7 linked regions of the Homo sapiens genome follow. The protein of the gene in region 1 purifies or fractionates together with the protein of each later gene. This does not show direct contact. Each region holds a gene or a part of one and is shown in the gene's direction. Other genes may lie near its edges. The genes, in order: CNR2, HACD3, PLS3, DHCR24, ARF3, GART and KDSR.

Region 1 (4,603 bases):
TTTTCCTTTAGTAATCTTGCCTGTGGTCATCTATTTTATAATCTTTTCAAACAGCCAGCTTTGACTTTGTCAGTTCTTTCTCTTCCCTATAGTTTTGCCATGTCATTAATTTCTGCTCTTATTATTTCTGTCTTCTGCTTTCTTTGAATGTATGCCATGGCCCTTCTTCTAATTTCATGAGTTGCATGATGAGCTCATGAGGCTTTTTTATCTTGTAGTATGAGCGTTTATTATTAATTTATTTATTGAGAACAGAGTCTCGCTCTGTTGTCCAGGCTGGAGTGCAGTGGCACAATCTTGGTTCACTGAAACCTCCGCCTCCCAGGTTCAAGCGATTCTCCTGCCTCTGCCTCCCAAGTAGCTGGGATTATAGGCACCAGCCATCATGCGGGCTAATTTTTTTTTTTTTTTTTTTTGTATTTTTAGTAGAGGCGGGGTTTCACCATGTTGGCTAGGCTAGTCTGAAACTCCTGACCTCAGGTGATCCACCCGCCTTGGCCTCCCAAAGTGCTGGGATTACAGGTGTAAGCCACCGCACCTGATAGTATCAGCATTTAGAGCTGTAAATTTCCCTTTGCATACGACTCAGATGAATCTCACACATTTTAATGTCTCACAATTTCGTAGTCATTCAATGCCAAGTATCTTCTAATCGCCTTTATGAATTTTTGACCCAGGAATTGTTCAAAAGTGTGTCTTTTTTTCTTTTTTCACACATCAGACTGGTAACGTGACAATGTCATCATAGGTTTGAGGAACATCTCACACGTGAGCGTGAAAACCAGTCATCACGCTTATGAACTACGAAGGGATCCCGAAGTGTGTTTTTAAAGATCCATACCTGAGGCCAGGCACGGTAGCTCATGCCTATAATCCCAGCACTTTGGAAGGCCAAGGTGGGCAGATAACCTGAGGTCAAGAGTTCGAGACCAGCCTGGCCAGTATGGTGAAACCCCATCTCTACTAAAAATACAAAAAATTAGCTGGTCGTGGTGGCAGGCACCTGTAATCCCAGCTACTTGGGAGGCTGAGGCAGGAGAATCGCTTGAACCTGGGAGGTGGAGGTTGCAGTGAGCCAAGACTGCTCCACTGCACTCCAGCCTGGGCACAACAGTGAGACTCCATCTCAAGAAAAAGATCCATACCTATGAACTTTGTTAGTAATTTTTTTTTTTAAAGACAAAGTTTCGCTCTCGTTGCCCAGGCTGGAGTGCAATGGCACGATCTTGGCTCACCGAAACCTCCGCCTTCCCAAGTTCAAGCGATTCTCCTGCCTCAGCCTCCCGACTAGCTGGAATCACAGGCAGGCACCACCATGCCCAGCTAATTTTTTGTATTTTTAGTAGAGACGAGGTTTCTTCACGTTGGTCAGGCTGATCTCGAACTCCCTACCTCAGGTGATCCGCCCGCCTCGGCCTCCAAAGGGCTGGGATTACAGGTGTGAGCCACCATGCCCGGCCTAGCAATTTTTTTTTTCTTTTTTTGAGACAGGGTTTCACTCTGTTGCCCAGGCTGGAGTGTAGTGATGCTCATTGCAGCCTCCGCCTCCTAGGTTCAAACGATTCTCCTGCCTCAACCACCTCAGTAGCTGGGATTACAGGTGTGCACCACCAGGCCTGGTTAATTTTTGTATTTTTAGTAGAGATGGGGTTTATTAGAGACAGGCTGGTCTCAAACTCCTGGCCTCATGTGATCTGCCCGCCTCGGCCTCTCAAAGTGTTGGGATTATAGGCATGAGCCACCATGCCCAACCAGTAATTTTTTAAAATTATTATTATTACATATATTTTTTGAGACGGAGTCTCACTCTGTCACCCAGGCTGGAGTGCAATGGTGTGATTTTGGCTCACTGCAAACTCCGCCTCCTGGGTTCAAGCGATTCTCCTGCCTCAGCCTCCCGAGTAGCTGGGATTACAGGTGCCTGCCACCATGCCCAGCTGATTTTTGTATTTTTAGTAGAGATGGAGTTTCACCATGTTGGCCAGGCTGGTCTCTAACTCTTGACCTCAGGTGATCTGCCCGCCTTGGTCTCCCAAAGTGCTGGGATTACAGGTGTAAGCCACCACGCCCAGCCTTAATTATTAATTTCTAAATAAATTTTATGTGGTCAGAATACAATTTTATACAACAGATCATTTTATATTAATTTATATTTATAATTATATTTAAATTATATGTAATATGTTAATTTATATTTAAATTACATATATAAACTATAGGCTGGGTGTGGTGGCTCACATCTGTGATCCCAGCACTTTACGTGAGGTCAGGAGTTTGAGACCAGCCTGGCCAACATGGTGAAACGCCATCTCTACTAAAAATATATATATTAAAAAAAGCCATGCCTGGTGGCAGGCACCTGTAATCCCAGCTACTCAGGAAGCTGAAGCAGGAGAATCACTTGAACCCTGGAGGCGGAGGTTGCAATGAGCCAAGATCGCGCCATTGCACTCCAGCCTGGGTGACAAGAGTGAAACTCCATCTCAAAAAAATAAAAACTAAAAATAATACATTTTATATATTAGAAGGTGATAGTGGTATGGAAAAAATAAAGACGAGGTCAGTGTAAAGAAAAGCAAAAGAGCTGGAGGTTGGGCTAGGTGCAGTGGCTCATGCCTGTAATCCCAGCACTTTGGGAGGCTAAGGCGGGCAGATCACGAGGTCAGATCAAGACCAGCCTGACTAACACGGTGAAACCCCGTCTCTACTAAAAATATGAAAACTTAGCCGGGCATGGTAGTATGCGCCTGTAGTCCCAGCTACTCGGGAGGCTGAGGCAAGAGAAAGGCTTCAACCTGGGAGGCGGAGGTTGCAGTGAGCCGAGATTGTGCCACTGCACTCCAGCCTAGGTGACAGAGTGAGACTCCGTCTCAAAAAAAAAAGAGTTGGAAGTTGGGATGAGTTAGGGTATTACATGGGGTAGTCAGGGTAGGTGTCATTGAAAAAGTAAGATCTGGGCAAAGACTTAAACAAGGTGAGAGCAAGCCAAGTAAATGTTGAGGGAAAGGTGATCCAGGAAAAGGGAACAGCCAGTGCAAAGGACCTGTGGCTGAAGAGAAGACTGATTAAGAAGCCAATGTGGCTAAAGCTGGGTCACCAAGGGAATCATGGTAGAAGGGACCATAACACTAAGGACTTTGGCTTTTACATAGTGGACTAGGGAGCTATGCAGGGTTTGGGACAGAGAAATGACAAGATCCTATATTTTTAAAGGATCACCCTGACTGCTATGTTGAAACTAGATTAGAAATGGGCCTGATTAAAAGCAGGGGGCCCAGTTAGGAAGCTATTGCAATAAACCAGATAAGAGATGATGCCTGGTTTTTTTTTTAAGCCTAAAATTAATCAATGTCTTTACCCACTTCCTAGATAAAGCTTTAACTCTATTCATCTCTTTCTTGTCTTGCATTTTTGTCATTCACAATTTTATTTCTACTTTGTTTTTGTTTTTGTTTGAAACAAGGTCTCATTCTGTCACCCACACTGGAGTGTGGTGGCACAATCATAGATCACTGCACACTGGACCACCTGGGCTGAAGTAATCCTTTGACCTCAGCCTCCCAGGTAAATGGGAATACAGGCATATGTCACCACGCCTGGCTAAATTTTTATGTCTTGTAGAGATGGGTTTCACCATGTTGCTTAGGCTGGTCTTGAACTCCTGGGCTCAAGCAATCCTCCTGCCTTGGACTCCCAAAGTGCCAGGATTTCAGGCATGAGCCACTGTGCCCAGTCTCCACTTTGGTTTTGTTTGTTTGTTTTGTTTTGTTTTTTGAAACAGAGTCTCACTCTGTCACCCAGGCTGGAGTGCAGTGGCATGATCTCGGCTCACTGCAACCTCTGCCTCCCAGGTTCAAGCAATTCTCCTGCCTCAGTCTCCTGAGTAGCTGGGACTACAGGTGCACACCACCACGCCTGGCTAATTTTTGTGTTTTTAGTAAAGATGGGCATAAATTACTCACTATTATCATTGTTGTTTTATAAAGCCATTTGCTTTTCTTTACTCATATTTGTCAACTTACTTGCTCACTATTCTTTCTTGCCGTTCTTTTCTTCCCTTTGGGTTGAATTTCCTTCTAAAATGCACATTCTTTAGATGTTCCTTCAGTGAAAGTCTGTTAGTGAACAATTTTCTTTGAATTTTTTAGACCTCATTCTTGAATGATAGTTTAGCTGGGTATAAAATTCTAGACTGACAGTTTTTTCTTTATTTTTTGGCTTCTATTGTTGCTGATCAGAAATCTGCTCTTAAAATTAATTATGGTTCTCTTACAGGTAATTTGGCTTTTCATTCTTACTGCCTTATATTTTTCTTTGTCTTTGGTATTCTGATATGTATGCTATATGATATACATGAACATGGAATGTGTTTTTAAAAATTCTACTTGGGGCTGGGTGTGGTGGCTCACGCCTATAATCCCAGCACTTTGGGAGGCCGAGGTGGGCATATCACCTGAGGCCAGGAGTTCAAGCCCAGCCTGGCCAACATGGAAAACCCCTTTTCTACTAAAAATACAAAAATTAGCTGGGCATGGTGGTGCACACCTGTAGTCTCAGCTATGTCAGGAGGCTGAAGCTGGAGAATCACTTGAACCTGGGAACT
Region 2 (4,603 bases), on another chromosome or scaffold:
AGCACTTCCTTACTTTCTGGCAGTATAAGCTGCTCCAGGCTTATCTTGCATGTATGTTTCCTGCTCCAGCCCTGGAACAGCCATTTCTTCAAGCATCTCTGTTCTTATTGTGGAATAGCATTGGAAACCAAGATCTGGGTGCCGGGTATGCTCATTGCTACCAGGTTGCCATTGCCTTTAAGTTCTCTTCACTGACAGAACAAGAAAATATATGTTTGGATAGTAACCCATGCATACACATACACCTGTAAATATTTCTGTATGGATCCATCTGTATCTCTGTTAAGCTAAACGTGAGTTCATAGTGATGTTGGAAACATGATCTTAGCTTCTGGAAAAATTATACTAAAATTCTAGAAGTCTTGAAAAATAAAATAGCAGTCTACCTCCTGCCTTAAACTTCTGTTTTATTTCTCTGACTGCGACAGATCTTCTGGATGTCCTTTCCAGCTTTAAGATTCCAAGGTCACTTGTCAGTTTGGAAGCCAGCTCACTGGGTTAATTTTGTGAACAATGGATGGGCACCTGTGATGCTAATGCTGCTTAGTAAGCAGGAGTCAGGCGTTTGGCCCTATGACCTAGAATATTCTCCCAATGATGCACTGACCCCAACTGGAGGAGTTGGCTTTGAGGGAGTCAGATTACTCAGCCAGCATATGGACTTTTGCAAGCATCTGGGAATTCTAACTTGTGTTCTTGGAAAACTTTTGTCTAAATTCTAGGAAGAAGAGCGCCTAAATAAACTCCGACTGGAAAGCGAAGGCTCTCCTGAAAGTAAGTTGTGCTGCTGCCATGGTAGTTACCAGTTAACTTGTGCTAGTGTTGGAAGTATGGATAATTGTGATGTGGCAGGAGAGCTAATGATTTCATCCCGGTGAGCTGTGTGGGTGAGTTTATGAAAAAGCTTTTAGGTCCAGTGCTTAAGGTCTGCACTACCCACGTCAGAATCCTTACCTTTAATGTGTCCTTTGTGTTTTGGTTGTTATTTCATGAGTACACCAAGGCTAGTGTAGCAGAATGAAAGAACTCCTGGACTGGCCTCATGGCAGATGGCAACCAAATCCTGCAGAGACTTGTGGAAATGATTGCATGGATCCAAGGCTACACTCCTTCAGCCTGGTGTTTTTCTCCCAGCTGAAATCTCAAAGGCTGTATGATACATAAGTGTGGTTGTCAGCCTGAAAGATGGAGAGTATTCTGTGTAGTCCTGCTATTCATTAACCTTTAACAAATCAATTTCTGTTTCCGTCTAACCACTTTAAGCAGGAAGCTCTGTAAGTGTATTATCTTCTGGGTGATGTAGTTAGATTAAATTCAGCAGCTATCTGTTAAAGTCATGCTGTGTGGCAAGCATTGTGCTGGGCCCTTGACTAAGAGCCAGAGGGATCCATCGTAGCGCCTATACTCAAAAGGGCTTACATTCTTAGTGAGGGAACTGCAGGTGTATGTAAAACTACCTCTGAAAAGCAGAATGAAATAAGTCCTTCTTACTTGTTCTAAGTTGAAATTTTTCAAATTTTAGTGGTACTTATCTAGCATGCCATAAATAAGGGAGGGGAAAGTTTTGGAGCAGTAGTTTTCAAACTGTGTTCCATGGTGCCCCAGGGGGTTCCCAGAGATGCTTTGGAGGAGTAGATCACACAAACAGGTCTACCTCAGTCAGAGCAGCTCTCTTTTGAGTGTTATGTGTTGGCATTCCGAATAAGGTTTCTTTTGAGAAGGAATTTTAAAAAATATTTGAATAGCGACTACCTTAGGGGAATATTCTTTCAGGAAAGCCGAGGAGGGGAGAGGTTCAGTGGAGGCAAAGAATAACAACATAAAAAAGCCACTTTGAGATTTAAATTAATGTTTTGGTGTCTTAAAGGGATAAACTTCAAAAATAGATAAAAATTCTAATATATGGATTTTTTGGGTGTTAGGTAAAGCTTTAACTGTTTTACCTAAATTCATAAAGTTTTCTGAACAAGGAAGTTCTTTATGGTGGGGAAGTGTAATAGATTTTTGTAGTTTTGAAGAAATAACTTTTAATTAGCTAAATGTTGCTAGAAGTCTGACATTTTTTGGAGTCTTAGGATAAGGCTGTGTTGTTTTTTTTTTTTTGAGATGGGGTCTTGCTATGCTGTCCAGGCTGATCTTAAGATACTGGGCTCAAGTGATCCTTCTACCTCAGCCTCCCAAGTAGCTGGGATTACAGGCATATGCCACTGTGCCTGGCTTAGGCTGCTTTTGATTGACCACATTATTAAATGTGATTATTTGAGGACCAACCAGATGTCTTTGCAGAATATCTGTAGCCTAGGAATAAATATGTAGCAGCAAAATCTGAACACCATAGATCTCCTCTTAAGAACTGTCCTTTTCTTTACCCTACTCCTTTGACTCAACAATGACTCTGTCAAAGCCTCTTGTTTCTTCCTTTACTCTGTAATTGGCTGTATCTTCATGAATCTTAGGCTGCAGATAAAATTAATGTCCCTTATTTTCCTGCATGTTGGTTTGAAATTGTCCTGCTTTGGTTATGTCCTCAGTCTGCCCATCTTTCAAAGCCCAGATCAGGCCAAGTATGATGGCTCATGCCTCTAATCCCAGCACTTTGGGAGACTGAGGCGGGAGGATCTTTTAGGCCAGGAGTTCGAGATCAGACTGGGCAACGTAGCAAGACTGTGTTTCTACAAAACATAATGGAATATAAAATTAGCAAGGTGTGGTGGCACAGACCTGTAGAACTAACTACTTGGGCGGTGAGGTGGGAGGATGGGTTGACTCCAGGAGGTCAGGGCTGCAGAGAGCTATGGTCCCACCACTGCATTCTAACCTGGGAACAGAGTGAGACCCTATCTCAAAAAAAAAAAAAAAAAAGCCCGGATTAGATACCAGCTTTATCCATGTAGACTAGCTTGATGCCTACTTCTCCAGCCTAATGTCGTTTTTTCACCTTGAAAGTTTCACAAGACATTACTTGTTACTCCCCACCTGGTATTACAGTTTTTAGATTGTAAGCTCTGAGGGCAGCCTTGAACTACCTTTGTATCCCAGTAGTTCTTCTCACAGTACCTTGCACATTGTAGGTATTCAGTTAATGCTTGGTTGAGTGAATATATAACCAAATATCAGGGTTGTTTTTTTCATTTACTGTATCTGTCTCTTTGAGCTAGTTTGACCTCAGTGACCTTAAAGAAATTCCAGAAAAGAAGAAACTATGGATTATATTAAGATGACTGGAGGGCCAGGCACGGTGGCTCATGCCTGTAATCCCAGCACTTTGGGAGGCCAAGGTGGGCAGATCACCTGAGGTTAGGAGTTTAAGACCACCCTGGCCAACATGATGAAACCCTGTCTCTGCTAAAATACAAAAATTAGCCGGGCGTGGTGGCGGAAGCCTGTAATCTCAGCTACTCGGGAGGCTGAGGCAGGAGAATTGCTTGAACCTGGGAGGTGGAGCGTGCAGTGAGCCGAGATTGTGCCACTGCACTCCAGCCTGGGTGACAGAGCAAGACTCTGTCTCAAAAAAAAAAGAAAAAAAAAATTGAGCCGGAGCTGAGGAAATCTTTATTTCCTTTTTGTAATGCCTCTTCAGATGGCCACTCATTTTTTTGCCAGGTGTTATGGAAAAAATACAACACTACAACACTCAACTGCTTTTTCCTATTTTCTTACTCAACAACAATCAACACAGAAGACTTCTGTGACCAAGTGGGTGGGTTTTTTCCCCCACATACCAAGCAAGCAATGAGTTCTGCAGCAGACACCAGCTGGGTGCCCTCTGGTTCAATTCTGACACTGTTTACCTAGAGATAGCATCAGGTTCCCACAGATGGAGGGCTCAGTCCCCAAGACACACCCCTGCCCCCAGCCTGTCCCGAGTCTGAACCTCCAGAACTTGTGACCAATAGGCTGTAAATTACGGTTCCCACAACCCGCTCCTGTGGTTTGATTGATTTGCTAGCGTGGCTCCACAGAACTCAGGGAAACACATTTGTTCATTTATTATAAGGGATATTATGAAGGATACAGATGAAGAGATTAGGAGGAAGTATGGAGGAAGTGGCGCGGAGCTTCCATGCCCTCCCCAGGTGTGCCACCCTCCAGGAACCTCCGTGTGTTCAGCTGTCTGGAAGCTGACTAAACCCTGTCCCCTTGGGCCTTTTATGGAGACTTCATCGGATAGGCATGACTGAAGCGTGTTGAACTGTGTTGAAATGTGATTGGACAAAAAGGGTCTGACCTAAACCCAGCAAGGCCTGTCTGTCCAGATTCTTCTCAGCCTCTCTGTGCAGTGTTCCCTCCTCCAGAGTATGAGGCAAGACCCTCTCTGGAATGAGGGTCTTAGGACCCACAATCAGATTAGAGTCGTGCCTTGGGCAGCTGAAAGGAAGGCAGGGAAGGTCATAGAGGGAGATTCTGTTGTCTGAGGCCTAAAGTGTCCCAACATTATAACAAAAAACTGTAACAAGGGCTGTGGGAGTTATAAGCCAGAAACCGTTGCCGAAAACCTATATATACATATACACATATCATAATATCACACCAGGGGTAATATTTTTTTCTTGGGTTTGTTATGTCTGTATACCTATTCTTCAAGGCTGGGAAAGGAAGTCCT
Region 3 (4,603 bases), on another chromosome or scaffold:
CTCTGAGGTCAGGAGTTTAAAAGCTTTGCTTATCTGAAAAAAAAAGAAAAAACGGACCTGGTTGATGCATATTCAGTCTTGAAAACAACTAGGGCAGAAGATATTTAAGAGATTCTGACTTTGTATTCTTTTGCCAAAAACCCTTTGTCTCCTGCAGCAGCCTCTGAATGACCGGAGCACTCCAGTTTCTTGCTGTTCATCCGTTTCTGAGCCTGAAAACTAGAACAACCTTAAAGCACATTGTTCTGACCCCAAGGCTAGCCTTGTGGCACAGATGAGCTGGAAATGGATTTAAGGTGCACCTGAGTTACTAGAGTTAACTACACTGGTAGATAGACCCCTCTAGTGGAAGTGAGGTGATAATATAATTTTAGATCGAAATAATAAATGTTTAACCTCAAAAAAAGGAAGTTATTACCACTCAACTAGGTTACAGTGGTAGGGGGATAAGTTCTTTTTTAAGTATTGTGAAATCATGTCTAAACAGAATCATCGCTAGGCTCTAGTCCACAGCTTTTCATTGTCTTGGGATGCCTACTCATTGAACACCACCCCCAATATTGCTGACTTTTTTTGGTGGTATGATCTAATGAGCCCAAATTTTTATTGAAATTAGGGGGCTGGGAGTCAAATTCTTGATTTTTACTGTTAGATCTAGCAGATAGCAACCCCTTTACCTGAGGTGGGGAGCTATTAATAAATAAATAACACTTTGCCTTGACTTAATACAGACGATCAACATTGAAGTCCAAAGTCTCTAGTCTGATGTAACCATTTAGATTCAATTGATAAAAATGACTAGGCTTATGGCATTTTGGGTAGAAGGATTAATTATAACTAGTGAGTAATAATTTGGGTGAGATTAAGCCTCTTCCACAAGTGGTTACACGCACATTAGACTTTGACTGTGACTGTTTATACTGGCAGAATGTCAGTATCTAGGGCACTATCAGAAACCCAATGAGATTTTTCTCCCAGGAGAACAGAATTCTGTTACTGAAAATAAAAGGGCAGCTTGGCCATGGTGCTTGAGCACCAAAGTGGTTCTTTTTGGTGACACTGAGAGGGTACAAGAAGAAAGTCCATTTGCCATTATCCCATATTCTGTTTTAGGCATTATTTCTACTTGGATTTTCATGAAATGTACTGACAGTGTTCTTAGCACATATGATAAATTCATGAGTTTGCTGTTGTGTTTGATCTAGCATAATCTATGTGGAATGTATAAGCTGAACTGTTTCTTTTTTGATGTTTGGTACAGATTATGAAAGTAGCTGGTATAAAATAAAATTTGAAAATGAATATCTCTCAATACATGACAACAATGGGGTATCTGTTTTTAGAATCATGTTGTCTTTGGTCATATGGCAATTTTTCTTTTGGTGAAGAGTGATCCAGAAGGCAAAATTTTTGATCTGTGAAAATAATACAACTCATTTAGAAGAAGTCAGCTGGGTCATGTTTTGAGTCTGTATTATTTTAGACAGTGATATACCATATAATGTATATTCAGTGTGTTGGAGGTTTCAAAGCTTTTTGGATACATTACAATGTTGGAAGATTTTTATATACCAGTGGTCATGACTAGCTGATTTTAGTTATGAGAGCGCTTTGGTTAAAGTTATGGAAACAGTCTAATCGTGAAATGTCAGTCTTAGAAGATCTGATCATACTTGGGCCAATTTATTTTAGTTACGGAGGTGAGACAATTTCAGAAGATTCACGATAAATTTAATAATACCAAATTTTGCCTTAGTCTTGACACTTGGAAGATAAATATTAGTGAGTATAAACTGTTTTAGGGATGAAGAAGTATTGTTAGTATACAAAAATGAAAATACTAATTATTTTAGCATGGGTCTTTTAGTCCTTTGCAGTCTGGACAGATAGATTATCTTAAGTAAATCATTGAACTTGCCCTCAGAGGAATTAGATTCTAGATAGTGCTCTGCCATTGACTCATAATTTGACCTTCGGAAAGTCATTTAAAATTATTATATTAATAACTAATTGAGTACATACATGTGCCAGACACCATTCATGCTTTTGTTTATAAAAAGAGAGGATTGCTCAAGCTTTTTGGTTTGCTGGGTTTTATTTTTTCAAATATTCATAATCTGGCTTATTTCACTTATCAGTTGACTTTTCAAACTTTGATGCAATTGCATTGATCCAAGCTAAATACTTTGTTGGCAAATTGATGACTATTCAGGAAAGTGATCACCAGTGGGTTATTCCATGACTAATGTTAGTTCTTTAAAATAAAGAGGTGCCATTTATTTAATTCCTTGACAGGGATTTTTGGTGCATTAAGCCTACTGATTTTATAATATGAGAAACCTTACATTTTCTTAAAAGTTTAGAAACGTATTTGATAATAAGGAGGTAGTGTTGTTTATTGGAAAAGCATTGAGCATAGAATTTAGGGTCTTTTAGTCCTTTGCAGTCTGGACAGATAGATGATCTTAAGTAACTCATTGAAATTTTCTGTGGTCATATCTGGGTTTCACTTTATTTTTAAGCCATGTGATTCCAATCTACATATTTCACAGGCATGGTAAAAGGATAAGTGAGAAACGTGAAGCCTTGGCTTTTAAGCAGACAGGTGCTATATAAATTCAAAGTACTGCAGCAGTGTATCATAGAAACACTAAAGCTTTAACAAGAGTTTACAGAAATGGCAGGGTTCTCATCACGTAAGTCTTGCCACATTTTTCTTTGTCTGTAAAAGTTCTGCACCCATCCAATTTTTACAAGCAAAGGAAAAATAAAGCCAGACATATTATAATGAAAAATAAGAGACTAGGTTGATAACAATAGAATAAAAACCTACATGTGATACTTTCTTCTTCTTCTTTTGTTTTGTTCTGTTTTGTTTTGTTTTAAAGACGGAGTCTTGCTTTGTCGCCCAGGCTGGAGTGGTGCAGCGGCCGTGATCTCGGCTCACTGCAAGCTCCTCCTCCCGGGTTCAGGCCATTCTCCTGCCTCAGCCTCCCGAGTAGCTGGGACTACAGGCGCCCGCCACTGTGCCCAGCTAGTTTTTTTGTATTTTTAGTAGAGACGGGGTTTCACCGTGGTCTCGATCTCCTGACCTCGTGATCCGCCCGCCTCGGCCTCCCAAAGTGCTGGGATTACAGGCGTGAGCCACCGCGCCCGGCCCGTTTTGTTTTGTTTTGTTTTGAGATGGAGTCTCGCTCTGTCGCCCAGGCTGGAATGCAATGGCGTGATCTCAGCCCACTGCAACCTCTGCCTCCGGGTTCAAGTGATTCTCGTGCCTCAGCCTCCTGAGTAGCTGGGATTACAGGCGCGTACCACCACGCCTGGCTAATTTTTGTATTTTTAGTAGAAATGGGGTTTCACCATGTTGGTCAGGCTGGTCTAGAATTCCTGACCTTGTGATCCGCCCGCCTTGGCCTCCCAGAGTGCTGGGATTACAGGCATGAGCCACCGCGCCCAGCCCATGTGATACTTTCTTCTATTTCTTACCTCAAATATTGTGCAAGGTAGCCCGTTAAAGCCATTAATTGGGTGGTGTTTTTCCCCTTTTTAACTAACTACTGAGTAGAATTTTGGTCTTCAGTGGTAATTGTTACAGAGTCCATTGGCTTACCATACCTCATTTTTAGTTTTGTGATTGCCCATAATGGGAGGTTTCGTGTAAAAAACCTCATAAAAAATCAAGTTTTTCCTCCTCATAATTGCAGTCTAAAGGAGGACAACACGCAGGTCTGGGAAACTGCATAGTGGAAGAGATAATCTATACATTTAAGTAGCATGCCATGAATAACACAAAAAATGGCCTGGCACGGTGGCTCACATCTGTCATCCCAACACTTTGGGAGGCCGAGGTGGGTGGATCACTTCAGGCCAGGAGACCAGCCTAGCCAACATGGTGAAACCCCGTCTCTACTAAAATACAAAAACTTAGCCAAGCACGGTGGCACGGGCTTGTAGTCCCAGCTACCCAAGAGGCTGAGGTGGGAGGATTGCTTGAGCCTGGGAGGCGGAGGTTACAGTGAGCCGAGATTGCGCCATTGCACTCCAAGCCTGGGCTACCGAGTGAGACCCCATCTCAAAAGAAAAACAGAAAAACAAACAAACAAACAAAAAAAAACAGAAAATGTGGGAAGTTAAGTTGAAAAATAAACACCTTCAAAGCTATTAACTTGGATTTTCTTTTCTTTTCTTCTTCTTTTTTTTTTTTTTTTTTTTGAGTCAGGTTCTCACTCTGTCGCCCATTCATACTCTGTCCAGTTCATTGAAAATACAAGTCTGATTCCCTTGAGTTGTGATATTCATACACACACGAGTATATATACACTTATGTGTGCATATGTATATTATATAAAGTTTTACGTGATATATAATATAAGTTTTTACTTTCTGTAAAATAAAATTTGTTAGGGCCGTATAATAGTTTTGAATATTCATATTATTGTGTTCCACATTATAAGCTCTAATTACATCGTGTTGCACTCAGATTGACATTCTGCTGTTGACACTGAAAATAACGCTTTCATTCATAGATGAATGTAATTTTCAAGCTTTTTTTCTATATTTCTTAACTTGCTTGAATGTTCCCATTTTTGCCATTTCTTGTTGT
Region 4 (3,500 bases), about 31 Mb from region 1:
AGGAACACACAACCAGAGGGTGGGCCGAATTTGTGGACCCCTGCAGCACACATTAGACACCCACAACCGAAGGCAGTAGTGCCCTCTGTATTGATACAGGATACAGTGATGAGCCAGTGGTGCTAAGATGCCACCATTTATGAGGTTTTTTTGCTTTCTGTTTTTTCAAAGCTCCTCTGCTTCTCCGTATCAGATGTCCCCCAAAGGGTAGGCAAATCATTCTTACCAATGCTTGCCATTAGGGAGGGGGAGGAGAGTTGAGGGTGGGTGGGGAGCCAGGTCAGGTCATTGCTGGGAGGGAAACAGGGTCAGGAATGCGCAGGGAGGCTTAACTTTTGTACTATGGGGATTTCTGCTGTGGGCATGTGTAGGTCTTCCAAAGGTAACCAAGGAAACAATAAAAGCCAGGCTATTTATTGAGATCCTGTTGCATGCCAGACATTGGCAAAGGCGCAGGATCTAACAGAAGAAAACAGGCAGGTCCCTGACTTCATGGGAGTGGTCCGGCAGCTCCAGAGGAGTGAGGGAAAGGGTCACTCAGCCTTCAGTGCTTACACACATGGCTGCTTTGGGGAGTCACCGTGCCCCCTAGTCTGATGTGGACCCTTTCATGAGCTGCCCCAGCCTCTGTTTGTCCCCACTCTTCCCACACTCATCCAGTGGCCTGTGTCTTCCACACCTGCGGTTGTGGGTGTCTTAAGGACAGAGACCATGTCTCAGTTATCTTGGTTCCCCAGCACCCAGCATAGAACCTGGTTCCTGACCTCGGAGGCCCCTTGGAACTGTTTTTTTTTTTTTTTTGGAGACGGAGTCTCACTCTGTCGCCCACACTGGAGTGCAGTGGCACAATCTCGGCTCACTGCAAGCTCCGCCTCCTGGGTTCACGCCATTCTCCTGCCTCAGCCTCCTGAGTAGCTGGGACTACAGGCGCCCGCCACCATGCCCGGCTAATTTTTTGTATTTTTAGTAGAAACGGGGTTTCACCGTGTTAGCCAGGATAGTCTCGATCTCCTGACCTCATGATCCATCTGCCTCGGCCTCCCAAAGTGCTGGGATTACAGGCATGAGCCACCGTGCCTGGCCAGAACTGTTTAATGAATGGAGGAGCAGCCTTGGCTTCAAGGGCTCCCAGAGCTGTGAGAATCGGGCATCAGTGGACACTGGGGACCCTCAGGAACATGGTAGGACTCAAGCAGGGAGGAGGATTGTGACCCAGGGGCCAAAGTCTTCTCTGTTGGAGGTGGGCAGAGCTGGAGGGAAGAGGGGGCCATCGTCAGGAGGCAGCAGTGCTGAGTGAGGAAGCTCCCGCCTCGTGGCAGTCTGAGGCGTGGAAGAGAACAGCTTCTGCGCAGGAGGGTTTCCAGGGAGACCGAATTGGGGGAGCCAGGCGGGTGGTCAGGCTGTGAGCAAGGGATGCTGCAAACCAGTGGGCTCCTTGTCGAACCTGAGCCAGACTGCACCCACCCCATGAGCGCTGTCTCTGGCTGTGTGCCCCTAGGGAGACTGCTTAAATTCTCTAAGAATCACTATGCTCATTCAACAGCATTCGTTTCTCAAACATTTATGGAATGCCAGCTCTATTCCAGCCAGATCTCAACAGCTAGATCAGGAATGATAGCTAGCTCATTATTGCACTCCAGGCATGGGGTTGAGTGCCTTCCACTTGGTATTAATATCTCATTATCCTCACAAGGCCCATTTTACAGATAAGGAAACTGAGCTCAAAGAAGTTAAGTAACTAGCCCGGGGTCATCACTACTGGCGAATGCCAGAGCTGAGAAGCAAACCTAGATTGGACTGGTAAAGTCCTAGGTCCCATCACACCCCCTCCAAAGAGGGGAATTGGACTCAGGCGTGCTTCTGTCAAGCACAGAATGGGACCTGGCCCCTGGCCCCTTGCACTTGGAGACATTCAACCCTTGTTGGTTTTTTTCTCTCCAACCCTAATCTTTGTTTTCCAGGACATTATCCCCTTTGGCAACAACCCCATCTTCCGCTACCTCTTTGGCTGGATGGTGCCTCCCAAGATCTCCCTCCTGAAGCTGACCCAGGGTGAGACCCTGCGCAAGCTGTACGAGCAGCACCACGTGGTGCAGGACATGCTGGTGCCCATGAAGTGCCTGCAGCAGGCCCTGCACACCTTCCAAAACGACATCCACGTGAGTGGGGCAGGGCAGGGAGGGCGCACCAGGTGCATTCCCTTGGAATCCATGGTCTCCTCCCCTGAACCGTGTGACCGACCTTGGGCACACTGCCCTCTGGGTGTTTTCCCAACTTTAAGATGAGGTCCTTGTCCCTATGTCTGCTGAGGCCTCAACCCACTCAGTGATGGCCCCCCTGGGAGAGGAGTCATAGGGTCTGGCATCGAGCACTCCCATGACCTGCTCCGATTGTGTCCTCCAAGGTGGTGGAGTCAGGGTGTTCTCAGCCAGGGCTGGGGGGCGGGGCAGTGAAGCTGAGAGCACCTGAGGGGGTCTTGAGAATGCTGCAAAGCCTTCATTTGGGTGGGTATGAGCGGGCCAGCCATGAGCCTGTCACCTGTTGGAGAAAAAGCACCAATACCCACCTCCCTGGTCTACCCAGGTCTACCCCATCTGGCTGTGTCCGTTCATCCTGCCCAGCCAGCCAGGCCTAGTGCACCCCAAAGGAAATGAGGCAGAGCTCTACATCGACATTGGAGCATATGGGGAGCCGCGTGTGAAACACTTTGAAGCCAGGTCCTGCATGAGGCAGCTGGAGAAGTTTGTCCGCAGCGTGCATGGGTGAGTGGCCCAGAGTATAGTATGTTGCCTCTAGCTGACAGCCCCAGGGTACTGCTCCAGGGGAATGAGGCCAGCTCTATGGAGAACCAGGAGCCCCAAGCCTATCAACTGGTTCCTTAGGGCCCCTGCAGCTGTGGCAGCCTCTGGGTCAGGAGGTAAGCTGTGAAAGATGGGCAGGGGGTGGGCTTGCAGGACTACTTGCCCTCTTCTCCCTGCACCCCCTCCTCCAGTGAACATGTCACACCCCCCCAGCAGCCCCAGCCAGAAACCTGGGAGTCACCCCACTCCTCCCCACGGAACAGATGATGGGTGTGGGCTTAGCTGGGTCCAGGGGCAACTGCTCCAGATGGAAAGGCCAAAGCTAAGGAGAGAGGGATTCCTGTCTATGAAAACCACGGAGAGGCCCAGGACAGAGGATTGCTCAGAAAACAGCCTGGATAAACTATTGAGTGGAACATGGACAAAGCCAGGAAAAAACAATGCCATATGATTCCTTTCATATAAAATTCCCAAAAACACACATGAATCCATACTGATAGCGCATCAGTAGTTGCCTGGGGATGGCAGAGGGCAACGGATAACTAAGGGGCATGGGGAAAGTTTGGGGCTGATGGTTATAGCCACGATCTGGACTGCAGTGATTGGAGTCCTTGGTTGCATGCATGTGTCAAGCTTATCCAATTGTGTACTTTAAATTATGTCTAGTTTATTGAAAGTCAATAACAGATTAAAGGAAAA
Region 5 (4,603 bases), on another chromosome or scaffold:
AAATAATAGGTGTAACACTGGGATCAGCTTTTGAACCAGGACTTCAGCATGACAGCCGAGCAAAGAAGCAAATCAAAGGACAGTGTACCTGTGTTCTGGGGCAAGGCATATTGGCTAGTTATATCTTTTTCAGCCACCACTATACTCACAGTTGGTAAGCATTTAATCAGCAATAGTTTCAGTCATAAAGGACAGCAAGATAAATGTGTGGCATAAATTTAATTCAGAATCTGGGCCAAAGCCTGATACCAAACCTTTAAAGCAAAGTGTCATCTGGAGCTGAAGGAAAGGCTGCCTGAGCAAGAGGCAGAATAAAGGCTAGAAGACTAGGAAGACTTGGGAAAGGTTTAAATTTCATGAGGTGTTAGTAGTATGACCAAAAGTCACTACTACAAATTGCCAAGGTTGGTGAGAGCTGTTCTTAGCTGGGTAGGTCGCTCAGGGGTCCTCAGGAGTCTGTCCACCTGGGTGGGTTGAGGCAGGAAGAGTAGGGAGGAAGGCTAGCGGGTGGCTTGACTGAAGTTGAACCCTAAGGTTGAGCTAGCCCTTCTTCCTGGTGTGTGAACCCTCTAGGTCAGGGGTAGGGCTCATCTGGGGAACCTACTGAGAGTGCCACGCCTGGCTCATTAGTGGCTGTCTGGGGAGGCCTTTTGAAGATGAAACACTTCATAAGCACTCATTGTTTCTGTTTTTTCGGACAAACTAGTACTTTGGTCTTCAGGGACTGTTGATCTGGCTCAGTTGCACTAGTCTGGAATTTGCTGCAAACTGAGAAGGGTGGTGGGGGAAATGTCAGAAGTTTTTGTAAAAACAACCAAACTCCCACCAAACCCCCATGCGTTAGCTTGTAAATAGGATTCCTCCCCGTCCACCTTTCACATTCTTGGGTTTGGGCGCACTTTGTCTTGACCTGTCCCTTTGGCTGCTGAGTTTGGGGTGTGTGTGTGTCTCTGGTTCCCAGACTCTAGAGAATGCCAGCAGCTGGCATATGGTGATTGCTGAATAAGCTGCCCGCTGACACATGCCTCCTGCAGGCACAGAGAACTGGTTTGTATGGGTGATTCTGAATCCTCATTTTATTATTGTTTCAAAGATGCATTTCTGTGGCTATCCTGTGCCATAGAGAAGAGAGGGAAGAAGAAAGGGAATGAATGAATGAATCTGATTCTGTCTGTTGGGGCAATGGCTGGGGTGAGCAGATAGACATTTTATACCTTCATAATGATTCTTTTGGTCCTGTTCATCCTTTCAGCAGGTATTTGTTGTTGTTATTACTATTATTATTATTATTTTGAGATGGATTCTCGCCCTGTCACCCAGGCTGGAGCGCAGTGGCGTGATCTCGGCTCACTGCAACCTCCACCTTCCAGGTTCAAGTGATTCTCCTGCCTCAACGTTCCGAGTAGCTGGGACTACAGGAGTGTGCCACCATGCCCGGCTAGTTTTTGTATTTTTAGTAGAGATGGGGTTTTACCATGTTGGCTAGGCTGTTCTCAAACTCCTGACCTCAGGTGATCCACCCGCCTGGGCCTCCCAAAGTGCTGGGATTACAGGCGTGAGCCACTGCGCTCGGCCTCAGCAGGTATTTGTTATGTGCCTACCATATGCCAGGCATAGCATCCAGTCTGAGTGAGCTTTCAGTAAAGTCAGTAGAGACCCTGGGGATTAGTTCAGTTTTTGAAGTACTGTGTGCTAGGCACTATTCTTGGTACTGGAGACAGAGCAGTGAACAAAACACATAAGGAGCTGATATCTTAGGCAGAATAAAACAATCAGCAAGAAATAAATATATAATGTATCAGATGGTGATAAATGTTGTGAAGAAAAGTAAAGTGGGATAAATGGGGTAGGGAGTGGTGTGTGTCTGTGTGTGTGTGTTATACATGTGGTTGTGGGAGGCCTCTTTGGTAGGTGACATTGAAACAGACAACTAACTGAAGGAGGTGAAGGAGTAATCTATGATGGTTATCTGGAAGAGAAGCATTCCAGGCAGAGGTGATAGCAAATATGAAAGCTTTGGGCCAGGCATGGTGGCTCATGCTTGTAATCCCAGTGCCCTGGGAGGCTAAGGCAGGAGGATTGCTTGAACCCAGGAGTTTGGGACCAGCCTGGGCAACACGGTAAGACCTCGCCTCTTTAAAAAAAAAAAAAAAAAGCTTTGAGGCAGGAAAGGAAAGTGTTGGGGAATTGGAGTGGAGTAAGCAAAGAGAGAGTAGTAGATCTCATGAGAGAAGTAGGGGAGTGTAGGTCTTGTAGGACCTTGTAAGCCATGGTTTGGGCCTTGGGTTTTACTGAAAAGGAGCTATGAAGCCACGAGTGGGTTTTGAACAAAGGACTCATATGACCTGAGTTTGGTTTTAAAACCACCCTAGATGCTATATGGAGAATAGGCCGAAAGGCTTAGGGAAGAAGCAGAGAACCAATGAGATGACTGCCTCATTGCAGCGACCATGTGGGACAGCCCCCTCCTTGGATGGGCCACAGTAAGCCAAGGATGCACCTAGCTGAGGAGTAAAGGGGTAGCCCCGCCATACCCCACCTCTCTACTGCCAGTGCACTGTTGTTTGAACAGGGCACAACATTAGCAGCTGGCATTCCACAGAGTGTAAAGGATCGGCTTCTTTTAAGAGTGCGGCTTTCTTATTCCTCCTTTATTTTGGTGTGGAAGAAAGATGGAGTTGCAAAAATATAGGAAGGGAAGAGGCAGAGTCTCTTGATTAAAGGAGAAAGCATAAACCTTGGGAAACTGGCAAGCCTGAACCTTGTCAGGAGTCACAGAGAGCCACTCCTTATTCCGCTCCCTCCTCTCCCACCCTTGCCAGAAGTCTCAGGGTAAGTAAGGTTAGGGGAGGGAGGGGCATTAATGATCTTACAATGCCTTTGGGTATAGGGTAGAATGTCAGAACTGAAGGGACTTCAGAAATCATCTAGTTCAATCCCCCTTCCATTTACAGGTGCAGATATGGAAAAGTGAAGTAACTTGCCCAGAGTCACATGGTTAGATTACTGGCAGAGCAGGGATCCTTAGTGTTTACTGCTTTGTCTCTGTTCCCAAAGACTCAGTATGTATCTGAGTGGGCCTTGGTATTTATAGTCCCCTCAGGCTCTCCGTTTGTCATGAATGAACTCTAGCCATGACCTTGGGAAATTCTATTTACTTGGAAGTCCTGACAAGCAAATGATGGTATGATTTTACATTTCCTTTGTCTAGGATCAAGTCTTCCATACCAGGGACCAGGCCAAAACCAGACTGCCACTGCCCCTACTTGGGCCCCACTGTCCCCAGAAAGCAGCTGCTGTGATCATGGGCAATATCTTTGGAAACCTTCTCAAGAGCCTGATTGGGAAGAAGGAGATGCGCATCCTGATGGTGGGCCTGGATGCCGCAGGAAAGACCACCATCCTATACAAGCTGAAACTCGGGGAGATCGTCACCACCATCCCTACCATTGGTAAGAGCACAGCTTGGATGTGGGCTTTCACGCCGGCAGCTGAGGCAGGGCAGGGACCTATTCCTGGTTCCCCAACCTGGCCTCTTCTCCCCAGGCAAGTCCATACAATTTGTGGGGTTCAGAAAAGAGGGTGGTGTTGTTTAGCTTACTACCAGGTGCTGAGGCTGCTGTTTGCCCACCTAACCTGGCTCTCCCTGATGCGGGAACTTCCATGGCCTGGCACTCAACAGCTGCCCTCAGGCACGGAGTTGGTTTCTTCTCTGTGTTGTTTGGAAAGCAGGTAAAAGGCTTTGATGTTCCTGCCAAAGGCTTGGAATTACTTGGGTTTAGATCTTTGGTGGCCAATCTTGGTTACAGTTTGCTGAAGGGAGGTCTCCCTACATTTGCTATGTAGATGGGGGCTCCAGTCAGCATTGTCAGCTGGCTCTGCCTTTGGGGCTCCAGGATGCCAGCTTACTTCCCTTTCTTCACTCTGCCTCTCAGGCCCCACATCTTAGCTGAGGCCGACTCTGGTAGCCAAAGTACCAGAGCAGGGCTGAGTCATTTTGTAGGAGGGAGCACCAAAGACTGAGTGGAAAAGTCAGGAAAGTTGGCCCACGTTACCCAGGCAACTGTGAACCTCTCAACCAACTTCCTCATCCTCTTTGACTTCTCTTAGGTTTTCATTTTGGCCTTCAGGCTGCTAGCTTAACGATTATCAGGTCTGAGGAAGCCTTAGCTTTTGTTCCATTGTTGGTGTTATGGCCACCACTGGGGGAAAGCAGAACCAAACTCATTGTGGTGGTGTTTGCGGGGCTAGTGTTTGAGGCCAAGTGGCCATTGCCTGTTTTTTTTCCAAAGGGTTCAATGTGGAGACAGTGGAGTATAAGAACATCAGCTTTACAGTGTGGGATGTGGGTGGCCAGGACAAGATTCGACCCCTCTGGAGACACTACTTCCAGAACACCCAAGGTATGCTCAGGCCTAGCGTGGGTTGGTTGGGTATGAGCAGAGAGTGTGGCTGTCTTTGTTAATGGGTGGCCAACTGTTACCCTGCTGCAGCTCCTGGGGGCAGAAGAAAGGGAGGAAAGGGAGCAAATATTTGGAGGGTGTCAGGCAGGTGTGGTCTTTTGGTTGGGGGGAGGGGGTTACCTGTCATCTTAGTGCAGCCC
Region 6 (4,603 bases), on another chromosome or scaffold:
GGATGGAACTGGAGGCTATCCAGGAATATCTGTGCTTTTCACAATCTATTAATCCATTATCCCAAGAGGAAGGGAGTTTTTTTAATTTTTAATTTGTATGGGTACATGGTAGGTATATATATTTATAGGGTACATGAGATCTTTTGATACAGCCATACAACCTGTAATAATCACATCCCTGTAAATGGGGTATTCATCACCTCAAGCATTTATTCTTTGTGTTACAAACAATCCAGTTATTTTATTTCAGTTTTTTTTTGTTTTGTTTTTGTTTTTGTTTTTGAGATAGAGTCTCACTCTGTCGCCCAGGCTGGAGTGCAGTGGCGCAGACTCGGCTCACTGCAAACTCCGCCTCCCAGTTTCAAGTGATTCTTCTGTCTCAGCCTCCTGAGTAGCTGGGATTACAGGCACCTGCCACTATGCCTGGCTAATTTTTTGTATTTTTAGTAGAGATGGGGTTTCATCATGTTGGCCAGGCTGGTCAGGCTGGTCTTGAACTCTTGACCTCAGTATGATCCGCCTGCCTTGGCCTCCCAAAGTGCTGGGATTATAGGTGTGAGCCACCACATCCAGCCTCTTCCAGTTATTTTAAAATGTGTAATAAATTATTGTTGACTATAGTCACCCTGTTATGCTATCAAACACTAGATTTTGTTCATTCTAACTATATTTTTGTACCCATTAGCATCCCCTCTCCCCGTCTCTCCCACTACCCTTCCTAGCCTCTGGTAACCATCATTGCACTATCATCATGAGTTCAACTGTTTTAATTTTTAGCTCCCACAAATAAGTGAGAACATGTGAGGTTTGTCTTTCTGTGCCTGACTTATTTCACTTAACTTAATGACCTCCCGTTCCATCCATGTTGTTGCAAATGACAGGATCTCATCTTTTTTATGGCTGAATAGTACTCCATTGTGTGATGTACCACATTTTCTTTATCCATTTGTCTGCTGATAAACATTTAGGTTGCTTCCAAATCTTGGCTAGGGAGAATAAACATGAAACTGCAGGTATCTCTTTGATACACTGATTTTCTTTCTTTTGGGTATATACCTAGCAATGGGATTGCTGGATGATATGGTAGCTCTTTTTTTTAATTTTTGAGGACCCTTCAAACTGTTCTCCATAATAATTGTACTAATTTACCTTCCCAATAGTGTGTGACGGTTCCCTTTTCTCCACATCTTCGCCAGCGTGTTATTGCCTGTGTTTTGGATAAAAGCCATTTTAACCGGGGCGAGACAATATGTCATAGTTTTGATTTGCATTTCTCTGATGATAATGATGTTGAGCACCTTTTTATATACCTGTTTGCAATTTGTGTGTTTTCTTTTAAGAAATGTCTATTCAGATCTTTTGCCCATTTTTAATCAGAGTATTAGATTTTTCCCTAATGAATTGTTTAAGCTCCTTATATATTCTGGTTATTAATCCCTTGTCAGATGGGTAGTTTGCACATATTTTCTACCATTCTGTGGGTTGTCTCCTTACTTTGTTGATTGTTTCCATTGCTATACAGAAGCTTTTTCCATATTTACTTTAGTTGCCTGTGCCAAGAGAAAGGGAATTTAGAAGCCTCACATATCACCAGTCTTTTCCAAGACATTTATTCAGAAAATTTGACTGTCCCCTATTCAAAATGGCACATCTCTTTTTTTAAAAAGTGTGAGGTTGGGCGCGGTGGCTCATGCCTGTAATCCCAAATTTGGGAGGCCGAGGTGGGCGGATCACCTGATGTCAGGAGTTCCAGACGAGCCTGGCCAACGTGGTGAAACCCCATCTCTACTAAAAATACAAAAATTAGCCAGGTGTGGTGGTGGGCTCCTGTAATCCCAGCTACTCAGGAGGCTGAGGCAGGATAATTGCTTGAACCCGGGAGGTGGAGGTTGCAGTGAACCCAGATCGTGGCACTGCACTCCTAGCCTGGGCGACAGAGTGAGACTCCCTCTCAAAAAAAAAAAAAGAAGTAGTAGTATGAGCTCACTGCTGTTTTTCTCCCTTCTCAGGATCGAACCTGCAAGCACTTATAGACAGTACTCGGGAACCAAATAGCTCTGCACAAATTGATATTGTTATCTCCAACAAAGCCGCAGTAGCTGGGTTAGATAAAGCGGAAAGAGCTGGTATTCCCACTAGAGTAAGTTACTTGGGAAAATATCTTTGCTGTGGGCCATATTTAAGCTCGTAATCTGCCCTCACAGGACCCTGGTCTATGGGCACTTGTTCTTGGGACTTCGCCATTTTGGGTGGGTGCTGGGCTTGCCTTCTTCATCCTGTCCCTTTCTTAATAATCTCTCTATCAGGTATATCTTTACAAGGAAGTGAAGTATGGTCTGTGTAAAGGTTGAGTTTTTAATTATTTTTGGTAATTCATTGAAAAGGGTTGTGCTTATCTTTTTCTATTACAGGTAATTAATCATAAACTGTATAAAAATCGTGTAGAATTTGACAGTGCAATTGACCTAGTCCTTGAAGAGTTCTCCATAGACATAGTCTGTCTTGCAGGATTCATGAGAATTCTTTCTGGCCCCTTTGTCCAAAAGTGGAATGGTAAGCAAAAATTATTTGACATCACATTGGGAAATCAATTGAAAATGGTCTCCAGAACAGATAACTTGCCAAACAATCCCAGTAGTGAACACCCATCCCAGAAATCCAACTCCTGTTTGACTGTGATATTTTATTAATACTTTAACACAGGTCACAGTTTAATTTCCTTTGTTTTACACTAAAGAATGACCCAATGATGATTTATTAACCTGCTCTCTATCCATTTACTTTGGCTTGCTGTAATTAATCACTTTTTCTAATGTAGCTTAGTTTTGTTTCACATTACTGCAAAGATAATATTTCATCTTTTGAATAAATATTCAGAAGACCTTCCTTTATTTGTTTGGAAGCAAAAGAGAGTGATTCCGTATATCCCAAAATGAAGAGTCCATCCTCTCTTAGGAAGCATAGACCATTGCCAGGAGTTGGCAAGGAGGAGGTTATTGCCAGAAAACACATACTATCTATGTTACTGCCTTCTTCCCAAAAGCCTTGACTGCATCCTGTTTGTGTATGTGTGCACACAGTTGGTCAATAAATGCATTTTCCCTCCAAAGAGTTTATGTATTCTTAGGTGAATGTAGTTAGAGCACTTGTGGTGTGATATAAAATAGACAATGCCTTTGGTGACATGAGCCACACAGAACTAATCTAGCATCTGTCTGGTGGACAGGTCACTTTGTGGTTAGAAGTCAAGCACATAGATGCTATGTAAGAACCTCTTGCTTATTTTTAATAGTACGTGCCAGCAACAAGCTGGTATTCAGCTTGAACTCCCCACCTTCCTGTCACCATGAATGTCTGTTCAGAGCACCCCAGCATGCCTTTAACTGTGCAAGGCGGGTACTTGCTGCTTCCAGGGCCTTCTTGGATGAGAACTTACTTTTACCTCATTTCTGTGTTTGGCAAAGAAAACATCCATCCCAGAAATCCAACTCCTGTTTGACTTCGGATCTAGATAGGAAAACGTATTCCTTTAACAGAATACCCAGGATTTTTAAATTCTGACCACTATGCTTTTTTTAATTTTTAGGAAAAATGCTCAATATCCACCCATCCTTGCTCCCTTCTTTTAAGGGTTCAAATGCCCATGAGCAAGCCCTGGAAACCGGAGTCACAGTTACTGGGTGCACTGTACACTTTGTAGCTGTGAGTATGTCTTTTTCTACCAACATAATATTAGTAGTCAGATGTAAATGACACTGGCTAGAAGGTAATGTTCAAAACTTTTGCTTACTTTTCCAGGAAGATGTGGATGCTGGACAGATTATTTTGCAAGAAGCTGTTCCCGTGAAGAGGGGTGATACTGTCGCAACTCTTTCTGAAAGAGTAAAATTAGCAGAACATAAAATATTTCCTGCAGCCCTTCAGCTGGTGGCCAGTGGAACTGTACAGCTTGGAGAAAATGGCAAGATCTGTTGGGTTAAAGAGGAATGAAGCCTTTTAATTCAGAAATGGGGCCAGTTTAGAAAGAATTATTTGCTGTTTGCATGGTGGTTTTTTATCATGGACTTGGCCCAAAAGAAAAACTGCTAAAAGACAAAAAAGACCTCACCCTTACTTCATCTATTTTTTTAATAAATAGAGACTCACTAAAAACAAGACTAGTTAGTGCAGCATATCTGAGACATACAGTTTTCTTGGTCTTTTTTATGCTCTTTTTCTAACCGTCACCCCCTCTTTTTTTTTTTGGTATTGCCTGACAACATGATGAATCACCTCCATGTTTATAAGTTTTATGTTTTCAGCTGGGCACAGTGGCTCACGCCTGTAATCCCAGCACTTTGGGAGGCCGAGGCAGGCGGATCATGAGGTCAGGAGATCGAGACTATCCTGGCTAACACAGTGAAATCCCATCTCTACTAAAAATACAAAAAATAGTTAGCTGGGTGTGGTGGTACGCACCTGTAATCCCAGCTACTCGGGTGGCTGAGGCAGGAGAATCGCTTGAACCCAGGAAGTGGAGGTTGCAGTGAGCCAAGATCATGCCACTGCACTCCAGCCTGGGCAACAGAGCGAGACTTGTCTCAAAAAATAATAATGGGCTGGG
Region 7 (4,603 bases), on another chromosome or scaffold:
CTTGAGTTACACACTTTTTGAGCCAGAGGTTGTAAACGATTCCCATGGGCCTGTAAAGCAGTTTTGTTGGGTCCATCTGGTGTGAGTGTGTGTGTTTAAGATTTTAAAATAGTTTTAAAATTAGGTTTTATATAAAAGGTCCAGATTTCAGACTTTTCTTGGAAAATCAGAAGGTTTAGCTGCACAGAGTCTGCATTCTTACCTGGCAGTCATCAGCAAGCACAGGTGGCAGCTGCTCCTGAGGGAGGAGCACAGTCCCTGCAACCACTATGGTCTGCAACCCCCTGCTCAGGCCCCCTGGATGCGTTTGAGTGTACCCTCACATTTTCCACACCAGTTGTTTCTAAACTGCAACTATACATTGCATGAAAACATTCAATGACTCCTTGATACCATCAGGATAAAGCTTTAAAAATTCCATTGCACCTGAGTATGGTGGCTCATGCCTATAATCTCAGCACTTTGGGAGGCCAAGTCAGGAGGATCGCTTGAGCTCAGGAGTTTGAGATCAGCCTGGGCAACATAGTGAGACCCTGTCTCTACAAAAAAATGTAAAAGAAAAGAAAGCCAGGCGTGGTGGTGTGTACCTGTATTCCTAGCAACTGGGAGACTTCTGCTTGAGTCCAGAAGTCTGAAGCTACAGTGAGCTGTGATCATACTCCTGCACTCCAGCCTGGGTGACAGAGCAAGACCCTGTCTCTAAAAAGGATTTAAAAATTAAAAAAATTTCCATCGCATGCCATAAACCACCTGATCTCCTACCCCACGTACCTTTCCAGGCTCTTTTTTTTCTTTCTTTCTTTACCCATCTTCTTCTTTTTGGAATCTTCTCTGTGTCCTGCCAACTTCTAATCCTTCAGGTCTCACCTTAAATATTGTTTTTTCCGGAAGATCCAAGGACTGGCTTCAGTGCTCTGAGGGTGTAGGGAAAAAAACAAAGGGATTTTTCTATTCTCTTTTTTTTTTTTTTTTTTTTTTGAGACGGAGTCTTGCTCTGTCACCCAGGCTGAAGTGCAGTGGCACGATCTCAGCTCACTGCACGCTCTGCCTCCTGGGTTCACACCATTCTCCTGCCTCAGCCTCCCCAGCAGCTTGGACTACAGGCGCACACCGCCACACGCGGATAATTTTTTTGTATTTTTAGTAGAGATGGGGTTTCACCGTGTTAGCCAGGATGGTCTCAATCTCCTGACCTCGTGATCCACCCGCCTCGGCCTCCCAAAGTGCTGGGATTACAGGCGTGAGCCACCGCGCCCGGCCTGATTTTTCCATTCTCTTATGCACGGGGACTCATGCCTATGGTCCCAGCTGCTTGGGAGGATGAGGCAGGAGAATCCTTTGAGTTTGGGAGGTCAAAGCTATAGTGAGCCGCGTTCATGCCACTGCACTCCATCCTGAGCAACAGGATATCAGTAATCACGGGTCTCAACCCTGAGGCAGTAGTTTCAATTTTACTTGTCTTTCCAGCCTGAGAATAAGCTCATTGAGGGCAGGGACTGTGTCTCTCACCACAGTGTTCACAGCACCTAGTATAGGGTCTCGCTTTCATGCTCAGAACATAAATTGCAAACCAAAAAAGCCTTGATTGTAGTTTGGCTATTTGAGATGCTGCAGTGGGTCTTTTTAAAGCTATTATAACCCTAAGACTGCAAGCAATATATATTTTATTCTGCTTATGGTTTGAATTTATTAATTGGACAAATATTTTGTTATGTATCTGGGCTGTCCAGCGGTGCAGAGCACACACATTCTGTTCTCACAGCTTACTGACATTTACAGAGTTTTCATTATATTCATCCTTAGAGCAGACTAGAAGATTTGTCTTAGAAACTGTTTGTTAGAGACCTAGGTACCTTGAAATAGTCTTGTACCGTTGGATGCACTAAAAGCTCTCTCTTTATCTTGCAGGTGGTCACCATGGGCCTTTTCCGCACTATTGCTTTGTTTTACCTTGGAAGTTTTGACAGCATAGTTCGTCGCTGCATGATGCAGAGAGAAAAATCTGAAAATGCAGACAAAACTGCCTAATCTTCTTACCCCTTGGAAGAAGACTGTTTCCAAATAATTTGAACAGCTTGCTGCTAAATGGGACCCAATTTTTGGCCTATAGACACTTATGTATTGTTTTCGAATACGTCAGATTGGACCAGTGCTCTTCAGGAATGTGGCTGCAAGCAAGGGGCTAGAAGTTCACCTCCTGACAGTATTATTAATACTATGCAAATATGGAATAGGAGACCATTTGATTTTCTAGGCTTTGTGGTAGAGAGGTGAAGGTATGAGAATTAATAGCGTGTGAACAAAGTAAAGAACAGGATTCCAGAATGATCATTAAATTTGTTTCTATTTATTCTTTTTTGCCCCCCTAGAGATTAAGTCCAGAAATGTACTTTCTGGCACATAAAGAAATCTTGAGGACTTTGTTTAAACCTTCCATAAAAAAACAATTTTCGGTTTCTCGGGTTCTCTCTCTCTCTCTCTCTGTCTCTCTGTCTCTCTGTCTCTCTGTCTCTCTGTCTCTCTGTCTCTCTCTCTCTCTCTCTTTCTTTCTTTGTGTATTTTATTCAAGATGAGTTGGACCCATTGCCAGTGAGTCTGAATGTCACTGACAGCCCTGTGTTGTGCTCAGGACTCACTCTGCTGCTGGTGGAAACTCATGGCTTCTCTCTCTCTTTGATCCCATAAAGCTACGAGGGGGACGGGAGAGGGCAGTGCAATGGGAAGTAAAGAGATATTTTCCAGTAGGAAAAGCAATGCTTTCTTGTCTTTAGACTCAAATGCTTAGGGAACGTTTCATTTCTCATTCATGGGGAAAGGCAGCCTCCTTAAATGTTTTCTGAAGAGCGGTAAAATCTAGAAGCTTAAGAATTTACAGTTCCTTCAATAACCATGATGACCTGAAGTTCACCTATCCCATTTTAGCATCTACTTGTTTTTCCCATCTCTTCCTTTCCAATTTTGCTTATACTGCTGTAATATTTTTGTAAAAAAAAAAAAAAAGGAAAAAAAAGACCAGCTAAAATTTTCGACTTGACTTTTTAACTTAACTCATGAATTAATTAAAGCAAATGAAAAAATTAAAAAGTGTGACTTTTTCTCGGAGCATATATGTAGCTTTTAGGAAAGGCTGATGATGGTATAAAGTTTGCTCATTAAGAAAAAAAGACAAGGCTGATTTTGAAGAGAGTTGCTTTTGAAATAAAATGATCACCTGTTCTTTATGTGACTCTCCCACTGAACCTGCAGACATTATTTTTATACCACATGCTAAGGAAGCCCACTCATCTAACTCTGTAGCCCTGGAAACCCTCTTGGCCCCTGAATGTTGTTTCCAGGTTATAGGATCTGTGTTCATTAGTGGATTTTGACAGCAAGTGCCTCTGATGAGTTTTAGCCAACATTCCCCGTTGCATCCTGCTCATTGTTCACACTCCTCTGACTTGAGGAGAGCTGCCTTCACCTTGATCTTGTAACCTGTCTTCCTTGCATATACGGTAGCACATTCCAGATCACTTCGGTGAGAAAAGACCTCTGTTTTTGAAGAGGAAACTTTCTTAAATTGTAAAATAAAACTTAAAAAACATAAAAACTCTATACAAAAATTGAAGACCTAAAAATTATAGCATACCTTTTTTTTGCTCTTGAGTTTTTGAAGCTCTTGACTTTAAATGACTTAACTTTTTAAAAAATAAGATGTTTTATGGCTTTAACCCATGTTTTTATTAAGATCTGAGAATAGCATATTTTAAACACTGATAGATACAGAAGAAATTATTATTTAATATATAAATTGCTTGGAATGATTTCATTGCAGCTTGTAAGGATGGGTTGATGCCAGAATGGTTTCATAAATCTTTCAGTCTTACAGAGCCAAAGTTTGCAGATTATATCGAGTTGCGTTGTGCAGCTGCTAAAATGGAATCATAGCTTTTTATAATTTGCAGAAAACAATTGCATTAATGTCTGGATGTTTCTCAGTTTTATTCTTTTCTCATAAATGTTCCTCGAATGTTGGCACCTTCTACTGCTGATCTATATTAGAATCTAGTCCAAGAAAGTGTCTGATTTAATAACATTAAATAGTTATTTCAATATATTTTTTCAAATTATCCTCATAGAACCTGTTGCCTCCAGTGAGATGGTAATCTACTACCCGAATAAATTTAAGAGCACCTGTTGAGAGCCCCTGTTTTGCGGTAGAAGACAATTGTCCCTATCCCAATTTCCACTGAAATATGAGAGCAGATTTGCAGAGACCATCATGTCAGAGAAGAAATTTCCTTGTCAGAGATGTTAAAGGGCTACAGTCCCTTAGCAAAGAAACTTCGAAATCTAAGTTGGTTTGTGTTTTTCTAAATTTGATACCGTAATTCATTTGGCAGCAAAATCTGACTTGAACTGATGTGAGAGTATTGTACTTTATATTTATGCTACTTCATTGTGACTTAATTTTCCCTGAAGAAATATCCATGGATTTGATTATAGGTTTTCCCTTAGATGCTGTGGAGGTGTTTTGTAATATTCAAAATATGCCCATATTGCCTTTTTAAAACCCCAAAGATTATGAATTCTGAAACACATCCAGCCCAGCGGGTTTTGGATA

The links.
Region 2: the proteins of CNR2 (region 1) and HACD3 purify together in Homo sapiens (affinity purification with mass spectrometry; one large-scale study listed by BioGRID and IntAct). This does not show direct contact.
Region 3: the proteins of CNR2 (region 1) and PLS3 purify together in Homo sapiens (affinity purification with mass spectrometry; one large-scale study listed by BioGRID and IntAct). This does not show direct contact.
Region 4: the proteins of CNR2 (region 1) and DHCR24 purify together in Homo sapiens (affinity purification with mass spectrometry; one large-scale study listed by BioGRID and IntAct). This does not show direct contact.
Region 5: the proteins of CNR2 (region 1) and ARF3 purify together in Homo sapiens (affinity purification with mass spectrometry; one large-scale study listed by BioGRID and IntAct). This does not show direct contact.
Region 6: the proteins of CNR2 (region 1) and GART purify together in Homo sapiens (affinity purification with mass spectrometry; one large-scale study listed by BioGRID and IntAct). This does not show direct contact.
Region 7: the proteins of CNR2 (region 1) and KDSR purify together in Homo sapiens (affinity purification with mass spectrometry; one large-scale study listed by BioGRID and IntAct). This does not show direct contact.

What each region holds. Positions count from the first base shown.
Region 1 is NC_000001.11:23,878,465-23,883,067, reverse strand, and holds part of CNR2 (cannabinoid receptor 2), read left to right. Parts: intron 1-715; exon of another isoform or gene 716-813; intron 814-3,463; exon of another isoform or gene 3,464-3,564; intron 3,565-4,603. UniProt on the Homo sapiens protein: Heterotrimeric G protein-coupled receptor for endocannabinoid 2-arachidonoylglycerol mediating inhibition of adenylate cyclase. May function in inflammatory response, nociceptive transmission and bone homeostasis.
Region 2 is NC_000015.10:65,557,958-65,562,560, forward strand, and holds part of HACD3 (very-long-chain (3R)-3-hydroxyacyl-CoA dehydratase 3), read left to right. Parts: intron 1-722; coding exon 723-774; intron 775-4,603. UniProt on the Homo sapiens protein: Catalyzes the third of the four reactions of the long-chain fatty acids elongation cycle. This endoplasmic reticulum-bound enzymatic process, allows the addition of two carbons to the chain of long- and very long-chain fatty acids/VLCFAs per cycle.
Region 3 is NC_000023.11:115,563,518-115,568,120, forward strand, and holds part of PLS3 (plastin-3), read left to right. Parts: intron 1-4,603. UniProt on the Homo sapiens protein: Actin-bundling protein.
Region 4 is NC_000001.11:54,852,696-54,856,195, reverse strand, and holds part of DHCR24 (delta(24)-sterol reductase precursor), read left to right. Parts: intron 1-1,961; coding exon 1,962-2,159; intron 2,160-2,583; coding exon 2,584-2,762; intron 2,763-3,500. UniProt on the Homo sapiens protein: Catalyzes the reduction of the delta-24 double bond of sterol intermediates during cholesterol biosynthesis.
Region 5 is NC_000012.12:48,939,797-48,944,399, reverse strand, and holds part of ARF3 (ADP-ribosylation factor 3), read left to right. Parts: intron 1-3,211; 5' UTR 3,212-3,304; coding exon 3,305-3,452; intron 3,453-4,292; coding exon 4,293-4,403; intron 4,404-4,603.
Region 6 is NC_000021.9:33,503,511-33,508,113, reverse strand, and holds the end of GART (trifunctional purine biosynthetic protein adenosine-3), read left to right. Parts: intron 1-2,009; coding exon 2,010-2,140; intron 2,141-2,411; coding exon 2,412-2,553; intron 2,554-3,586; coding exon 3,587-3,702; intron 3,703-3,798; coding exon 3,799-3,990; 3' UTR 3,991-4,181; downstream 4,182-4,603. UniProt on the Homo sapiens protein: Trifunctional enzyme that catalyzes three distinct reactions as part of the 'de novo' inosine monophosphate biosynthetic pathway.
Region 7 is NC_000018.10:63,329,207-63,333,809, reverse strand, and holds part of KDSR (3-ketodihydrosphingosine reductase), read left to right. Parts: intron 1-1,908; coding exon 1,909-2,028; 3' UTR 2,029-4,603.